Homo sapiens: one gene and its partner. The protein of the gene in region 2 purifies or fractionates together with the protein of the main gene of each other region. This does not show direct contact. Each region holds a gene or a part of one and is shown on either strand. Other genes may lie near its edges.

Region 1 (3,809 bases), on a different chromosome or scaffold from region 2:
ACTGAGTACTGGAATAGAGAGTAGCCTATTTTGAACCTACTTTTTTTAAAAAAAACTTGCATTTCAGAAAAATATCCAAAAATATGTCCAACAGGGTTATCCTGTTGGTACCAAAGACCTTCAGAAATTTCAGAGCATAGGATGTTAGCAAGAAGCACCCAATGGTGCCCAGGCTGGAGTGCAGTGGCGTGATCTCAGCTCACTACAACCTCCATCTCCCAGCCGCCTGCCTTGGCCTCCCAAAGTGCCGAGATTGCAGCCTCTGCCCGGCCACCACCCCGTCTGGGAAGTGAGGAGCGTCTCTGCCTGGCCGCCCATCGTCTGGGACGTGAGGAGCCCCTCTGCCTGGCTGCCCAGTCTGGAAAGTGAGGAGCGTCTCTGCCCGGCCGCCATCCCATCTAGGAAGTGAGGAGCGCCTCTTCCCGGCAGCCATCCCATCTGGGAAGTGAGGAGCATCTCTGCCCGGCCGCCCATCGTCTGAGATGTGGGGAGCGCCTCTGCCCCGCTGCCCCGTCTGGGATGTGAGGAGCTCCTCTGCCCGGTCGCGACCCCGTCTGGGAGGTGAGGAGCGTCTCTGCCCAGCCGCCCCGTCTGAGAAGTGAGGAGACCCTCCGCCCAGCATCCGCCCCATCTGAGAAGTGAGGAGCCCCTCCGCCCGGCAGCCGCCCCGTCTGAGAAGTGAGGAGTCCCTCTGCCCGGCAGCCACCCCGTCTGGGAAGTGAGGAGCGTCTCCGCCCGGCAGCCGCCCCGTCCGGGAGGGAGGTGGGGGGGTCAGCCCCCCGCCCGGCCAGCCGCTCCGTCCGGGAGGGAGGTGGGGGGGTCAGCCCCCCGCCCGGCCAGCCGCCCCGTCCGGGAGGTGAGGGGCGCCTCTGCCCAGCCGCCCCTACTGGGAAGTGAGGAGCCCCTCTGCCTGGCCAGCCACCCCGTCCGGGAGGGAGGTGGGGGAGTCAGCCCCCAACCCGGCCAGCCGCCCCATCCGGGAGGGAGGTGGGGGGGGGGTCAGCCCCCCGTCCGGGAGGGAGGTGGGGGGGTCAGCCCCCCGCCCGGCCAGCCGCCCCGTCCGGGAGGGAGGTGAGGGGGGGTCAGCCCTCCGCCCGGCCAGCCGCCCCGTCCGGGAGGGAGGTGGGGTCAGCCCCCCGCCCGGCCAGCCGCCCCGTCCGGGAGGTGAGGGGCGCCTCTGCCCAGCCGCCCCTACTGGGAAGTGAGGAGCCCCTCTGCCGGGCCAGCCGCCCCGTCCGGGAGGGAGGTGGGGGGCTCAGCCCCCCGCCCGGCCAGCCGACCCGTCCGGGAGGGAGGTGGGGGGATCAGCACCCCGCCCGGACAGCCGCCCCGTCCGGGAGGGAGGTGGGGAGGTCAGCCCCCCGCCCGGACAGCCGCCCCGTCCGGGAGGGAGGTGGGGGGGTCAGCCCCATGTCCGGGAGGGAGGTCGGGGGGGTCAGCCCCCCGCCCGGCCAGCCGCCCCGTCCGGGAGGGAGGTGAGGTCAGCCCCCTGCCCGGCCAGCCGCCCCGTCCGGGAGGTGAGGGGCGCCTCTGCCCAGCCGCCCCTACTGGGAAGTGAGGAGCCCCTCTGCCGGGCCAGCCACCCCGTCCGGGAGGGAGGTGGGGGGCTCAGCCCCCCGCCCGGCCAGCCGACCCGTCCGGGAGGGAGGTGGGGGGATCAGCCCCCCGCCCGGCCAGCCGCCCGGTCCGGGAGGGAGGTGGAGGGGTCAGCCCCACGTCCGGGAGGGAGGTGGGGGGGGTCAGCCCCCCGCCCAGCCAGCCGCCCCGTCCAGGAGGTGAGGGGCGCCTCTGCCCTGCCGCCCCTACTGGGAAGTGAGGAGCCCCTCTGCCCGGCCAGCCGCCCCGTCTGGGAGGGAGGTGGGGGGGTCAGCCCCCCGCCCGGCCAGCCGCCCTGTCCGGGAGGGAGGTGGGGGGGTCAGCCCCCCGCCCGGGAGGTGAGGGGCGCCTCTGCCCGGCCGCCCCTACTGGGAAGTGAGGAGCCCCTCTGCCCGGCCAGCCGCCCCGTCCGGGAGGGAGGTGGGGGGGTCAGCCCCCCGCCTGGCCAGCCGCCCCGTCCGGGAGGGAGGTGGGGGGGTCTGGCCAGCCACCCCGTCCGGGAGGTGAGGGGCACCTCTGCCCAGCCACCCCTACTAGGAAGTGAGGAGCCCCTCTGCCCAGCCACCACCTCGTCTGGGAGGTGTACCCAACAGCTCATTGAGAACGGGCCAGGATGACAATGGCGGTTTTGTGGAATAGAAAGGGGGGAAAGGTGGGGAAAAGATTGAGAAATCGGATGGTTGCCGTGTCTGTGTAGAAAGTAGACATGGGAGACTTTTCATTTTGTTCTGTACTAAGATAAATTCTTCTGCCTTGGGATCCTGTTGATCGGTGACCTTACCCCCAACCCTGTGCTCTCTGAAACATGTGCTGTGTCCACTCAGGGTTAAATGGATTAAGGGCGGTGCAAGATGTGCTTTGTTAAACAGATGCTTGAAGGCAGCATGCTCGTTAAGAATCATCACCACTCCCTAATCTCAAGTACCCAGGGACACAAACACTGCGGAAGGCCGCAGGGTCCTCTGCCTAGGAAAACCAGAGACCTTTGTTCACTTGTTTATCTGCCAACCTTCCCTCCACTATTGTCCTATGACCCTGCCAAATCCCCCTCTGCGAGAAACACCCAAGAATGATCAATAAAAAAAATAAAAATTTAAAAAAAAAAGAAAAAAAAAAAGAAGCACCAAAGCAGAAAGTACCTCTTTCTGCATGCGAGAAACCATCATTTATGTGAGAGTGATGTTCCCTAACATAAGGAAGGGTCTCTGCTAAGCAAGTGAGGGGTGGAAGGAGCTGTTGCCAGAGCCTACCAGAAGCATCCTGGTAACCAGCTGCTGGCCCAAACTTTTTCTACTTACATGGAACAGTGGAAAGTGCCAACAGGGTTCTCACGACGAATGTCTTCATATTCCTCATAGATTCCTTGCTTTTGCCTGGCATTAACATAGTCCACCAACTCTTGGATGGTCATAGCATGGGGACCTGGAACATGTACTGAGTCCCAGTCTAAGGCAGGAGGGAGGGAGAACAGGATGATCTCATCGAAGGGATCTGGGTGGCCGTTCACCTGGGGTAGGAACTGGAAATTCCAAGTGGCGAGATCAATTTTGACGTACCCACCCAGGTTTTCTGGAAGACACTCCCTGGGCAGATGCTGCGTGACCTCAGATGTCTTTAATATTTGAATCTGGAAGGTTAGAAAGAACCATGTGAGTATGTGGGAGGAGGGAAAGGCATATAGAGTGACAAAGAATAAATGTATTTATATCAGGTTTGGAGGATGGGATAAGATTTTCTTGAAATACAAGGTATACTTGTAAAAGTAGTAGACTACATTTCATCTGCCTGAGATTTAAGTCCTATGAATTTGCCAGATAAAAGTGTGAACTCCCAGAATGTATATAAAATTCACTCCTGGAATTAGGGACACTGTTATACATCTTCTGAAAGGACGATGTAGTGAACAAAAGCTTTATATTATTAACAAGGCTTCCCAGCATCGCTGCATGCTGGTACTCTTTTTTTGGCCACTAAGAATGCATAGGTAGTAGTTATTTTTGTCAACCCCATACTCAGACAACCAATTCTAAGGCCTGTTAGCTTGTATTTTACTCAGCTTGGTATAACTGTTCACAAAGATAGGATTCTATGAAAGCAAGACACCCAGAGGCAGGGTAGCCCAGGAAAAATGTGAGATAACACTTTTTTTTTGAGACAGGGTCTCACTTTTTCACCCAGCCTGGAGTGTAGTGGCGTGATGAAGGCTCACTGCA
Region 2 (4,270 bases):
AGCAAGTTGCAGAATAGTGTACAGAAAATCACGTTTTTAAACTATACACATACACTTGTGAATGCACACAAAACTTCTGGAAAGAGATATAAGAAACTTACCAATGGTTATCTCTTGGAACAGAACTGGACAAGTGAAGATTTAAGATGAGAAAGAGGATTTTTACTATACTGTTTGAATTTTTTACTACACACCCATGTAACTTATCGTGGCAGTCGGGAATATGTGCCGGTCAGATCTGCTGGGAAAACGTAATTGATAAAGGGCCCCAGTGGCTGTCCCTCTAGATCCACTATCCAGGGGAAGCCAGAACTTTCCACAGCCCTTCTGTGGCCTCACTGCTCCTAGCCAATGATTTAGTGAGACATAGGACTCCTCTAACAGGCAGCGTTTGCTTGAGGGCCTGGCCAAACCTTTGTTGGGACTGCCCTGCAGTCAGAGACTTGCTGCCCAAACCTCCTTCACAGGAGCTGATCTGCATCACTGCCAGTGGCTCTTCCTGACTTCTCCAGCTCCCTTCCCAGGTGCTGTCCTTCGCAAGGGTTGCCTCTACATTTCTAGCACGTCTAACCTCATCCTAGTGTCTGCTTCTTAGAGGACCTGAACTCATGCACTTTTTTGTTTAAGAGAGAGACAGGGTCTTGCTCTGTCACCCAGGCTGAAGTGCAGTGGCGCAATCATAGCTCTCTGCAACCTCGAACTCCTAAGTTCAAGCAATCCTCCTGCCTCAGCCTCCCAGGTAGCTGGGACTATAGGCACACACCACGCCTGGCTAATTTTTAAATTTTTTCTTGGGCTGTGTGTGGTGGCTTATGCCTGTAATCCCAACACTTTGGTAGGCTGAAGTGGATGGATCACCTGAGGTCAGGAGTTCGAGACCAGCCTGGCCAACATGGTGAAACCCTGTCTCTACTAAAAATACAAAAATTAGCCAGGCATGGTGGTGCGGGCCTGTAGTGCCAGCTACTTGGGAGGTTGAAGCAGGATAATCGCTTGAAACCAGGAAGCGGAGGTTGCAGTGAGCCGAGATCATGTCACTGCACTCCAGCTTGGGCGACAGGGCGAGACGCTATCTCAGATAAATAAATAAATAAATAAATAAATAGATAGATAGATAAATAAATAAAAATATATTTTAAAAGGACCAATCTGCTGTCTTGAGAATGGACTCTAAGGGAGTGAGGACTGAAGCAGACCATTTAGAGGCTATTGCAATAATCCAGCTGAGAGATGCTGGTGGCCTGGAGTAGGTAGCCTTCACTGACCCCCAGCCAGGTTAGGTGCCTCCCCCGCACTTCTCCCACCCTGTTGCAATTGTCTGTTGGCAATTTGTGAGCAACATCCAAGTTTGTCTTGTTCATCACCTGAAACCCAGCGCCTAACATGGTGTTAGACACATAATCTGCACTCCATAAATATTTGTTGAATGACTTTAGTCTGGTTGGCACAGGTATGCTAAGTGAGGAATGGAACAACTATGGCTTTGTTTCTATGGAAGTAACCAAGAGATGCCTGCAATCCCATCAAACATCAGTGTTCACAAGGTACAAGCCTCACCTCAAAGCCCCTCTCCAGCCTCATTTTCCATCGCACCCCACCTTGATGCACATTAAATGCCAGTCAAAACAAACTAATAACCCATCATCCTTGGAATAACTCGTGCACTTCTGATACACTCTGCCTGGAATTTCCTCTTCTAATTTGTTCCTAACTTGACAGCTCAGGCTCAGCTGCCATGTCACCACCTCAGTGAATCCTTCCCAAACTCCCTGAGGGTGATTCCCTCCAGTTTTCCACAGAACTGGGTTCCTATTTCTTTTTTAGAAATTACAGTCCAATGCTATGGGCATTTATCTAGAGTCAGTTTCACCACGCACTCATTTATCAAATAATTACCGATCACCTACCATATATGTCAGGCACTGTGCTCACAGGCACTGGGAACACAGACGCAAACAATACAATTCCTTGCCTAATAAAGCTTACATTATAGTGGAATGAAGAGAATGCATACTTGAGCATTTTACCATGTATCAAGCATTGCTAAGCCCTTTACCCATTTCCTCATTTAATCTTCACGTTATTTGGTGAGAGCGCTATTACTGTTGCCATTTTACAAAGGAGGACAAAAAGGACTGTCCCCTAGAATCTAAGTTCCACGAGGGCAGAGGGCTTGTCTGCCATGTCCACTGCCACCCCCAGTGCCGGGCACATGGCAGTGGTCTGTACACATCAGCGGAGGATATAGGTTAAGCGATTCGCCCAAGGGGGCACACCCGGTGAGGCAGAGCAAGGATGCGTCTAGCCCCACCCTGGGCTTCTAATCTGTACCCTCCACCTGGAGCTTCATGTTGACTCTCCAGGGACTCAGCAGTGCCGAGCGCTCAGCAGGACTCAGTCACAGGCTGGTGAATGAGCTGACAGGCGGACATATGAGTGAGATGCAGACACCATTGGTAACGGTGAAGCCAAAGATCTCCCCCACCTGGAGCCCATCCTTTCTGGAGCATCACTTTCCTTTCCACCCCTTCCTCTCAACAAGGAGAGGTCAGGAAGCCATCTCTCCTAGAGCCCCCGAGACCCCATATCCCGTGGACAACCTTCCGAGGCCCCCACTTCCGGCTGTCACCCCCTCCCCAGGTGTCCCCATTTCCTGGGGTCTCTCGCTCCTCTGGTCCCCACTTCCGGTTATCCTTCCCTCTCAGGGGTCCCTCTCCTCAGCTCCCAGGGCACACGGATGGGCTCGCGGGCACTCACCGGCCCGACTACGGGCGGAGCGCGGGTCAATCGGCGGCGGGAGCCTCGTCCGGCAGCGCACGCAGAACCGACCCGCACTCCCTGCCCGGCCTGCCCGGCCTCTCGCGCCGGAAGTGACGATCCAGGGCGTGGGAGGCGGGGCTCCGCCTAGGAGCGCGCATGTGCGACGCCTCCCCGCGGCGTTGGTGTTCAGTCCCCACCTGGCTGCCGGAGCTCCGAGCTGCGGACCTGGAGTGGCTGGGAGGAGCTGGGGCACCAGCCGCTTGTCAAACCCGGCTTATAGATGGGGAAACTGAGGCTCAGAGAAGGAAGGAAAGAAGCTGCCATTTTCCAAGAACATGCTAACATGTACCTGTTGTTTAACATCCATGATCTCATTAACTCCTCATATTTATGCAATTCCCCTATTTCAGGAAAGGGAAACTGGCAATCAAGGCAGTAAAGGGCTTCAAACCCGGACCTCAGGATTAGCATTCTAGACTTCCCCCCACTATGGCTGCTATCAGGACTAGCTGCTCCAAAAAGGGAGACTCCAAACCAGGGGACATCTGTCTGTCATTAACTGAGTGACCTGGAGCAAGTCCCCATTCCTTCTTGTGCTTCCGTTTCCTTACCTGAAACCTGATTCTTGCTCTGGAGCCTGATTCAATAATTACTTTTTTCCTGCTTTGGGGTTCATTACGTTCCCTCCAGACAAAGGCTTTACTAACTCCCACCCCAGTCCATTAAGATCCGCCCGCAAGTATTTTGTGCAACTGCAACTTTGAGGCAAATCTCCTAGGTCCCTCTGAGGCAGAACCTCTGGTGGTCCAGGAGAACTCTGAGCCTAAAGAAACGACCTTAAACAGTCTTTTCATTTTCCTACCCCAGGGGCAAGAGGAGTCCCAAGAAGATGGGAAGTGACCCATGAGGGCCACAAGAACGTGGCAGTTTCTGCCAGATTGAGGGGCAGGGGGCAGCAGTATGGAGGCGACCTGGGAATCATGAGTTTTGACTCCTGCTCTCAGTTTCATCACTTCTAAGATTGACAGACAAAATATATAACATTCACTACAGTTTGAATTTCAGATAAACATTTAAGCATGTTCCTTTCCAAACACACACACACATACACACAGATAAGTGTGTCCTATGCAACATTTGGGACACATTTATACTTTAAAAATTGTTGTTTATAGGAAATTCAAATATGACTACTGGGCATCCTGGATTTTGTTTTGTTTGCTAAATCTATGTATTATTTTCCTGTTACTGTTACAAGGAATTACTGCAAACTTCATGGATTGAAACAACACAGATATATTCTCTTGCAGTTCTCTAGGTCAAAAGTCTAAAATCAAGGTGTTGGCAAGGCTGCATTCTTTTGGGGATTTGGAGGAAGCATCAGTTCCTTTCCTTTTACAGTTTGTAGAGGCCACCTGCATTCCTTAGCTTATGGCCCCTTCTTCAAATCACCTCAACCTCTGGCTTCTGTTGTCACCTCTACTACTGACTGATCCTCCTGCTTCCCTCT

Evidence for each region.
Region 1: the proteins of TTPAL (region 2) and PTPN9 purify together in Homo sapiens (affinity purification with mass spectrometry; one large-scale study listed by BioGRID and IntAct). This does not show direct contact.

Annotation. Positions count from the first base shown.
Region 1 is NC_000015.10:75,502,781-75,506,589, forward strand, and holds part of PTPN9 (tyrosine-protein phosphatase non-receptor type 9), read right to left. Parts: intron 3,224-3,809; coding exon 2,895-3,223; intron 260-2,894; exon of another isoform or gene 223-259; intron 1-222. UniProt on the Homo sapiens protein: Protein-tyrosine phosphatase that could participate in the transfer of hydrophobic ligands or in functions of the Golgi apparatus.
Region 2 is NC_000020.11:44,474,479-44,478,748, reverse strand, and holds the start of TTPAL (alpha-tocopherol transfer protein-like), read right to left. Parts: upstream 2,876-4,270; 5' UTR 2,758-2,875; exon of another isoform or gene 102-2,757; intron 1-101. UniProt on the Homo sapiens protein: May act as a protein that binds a hydrophobic ligand.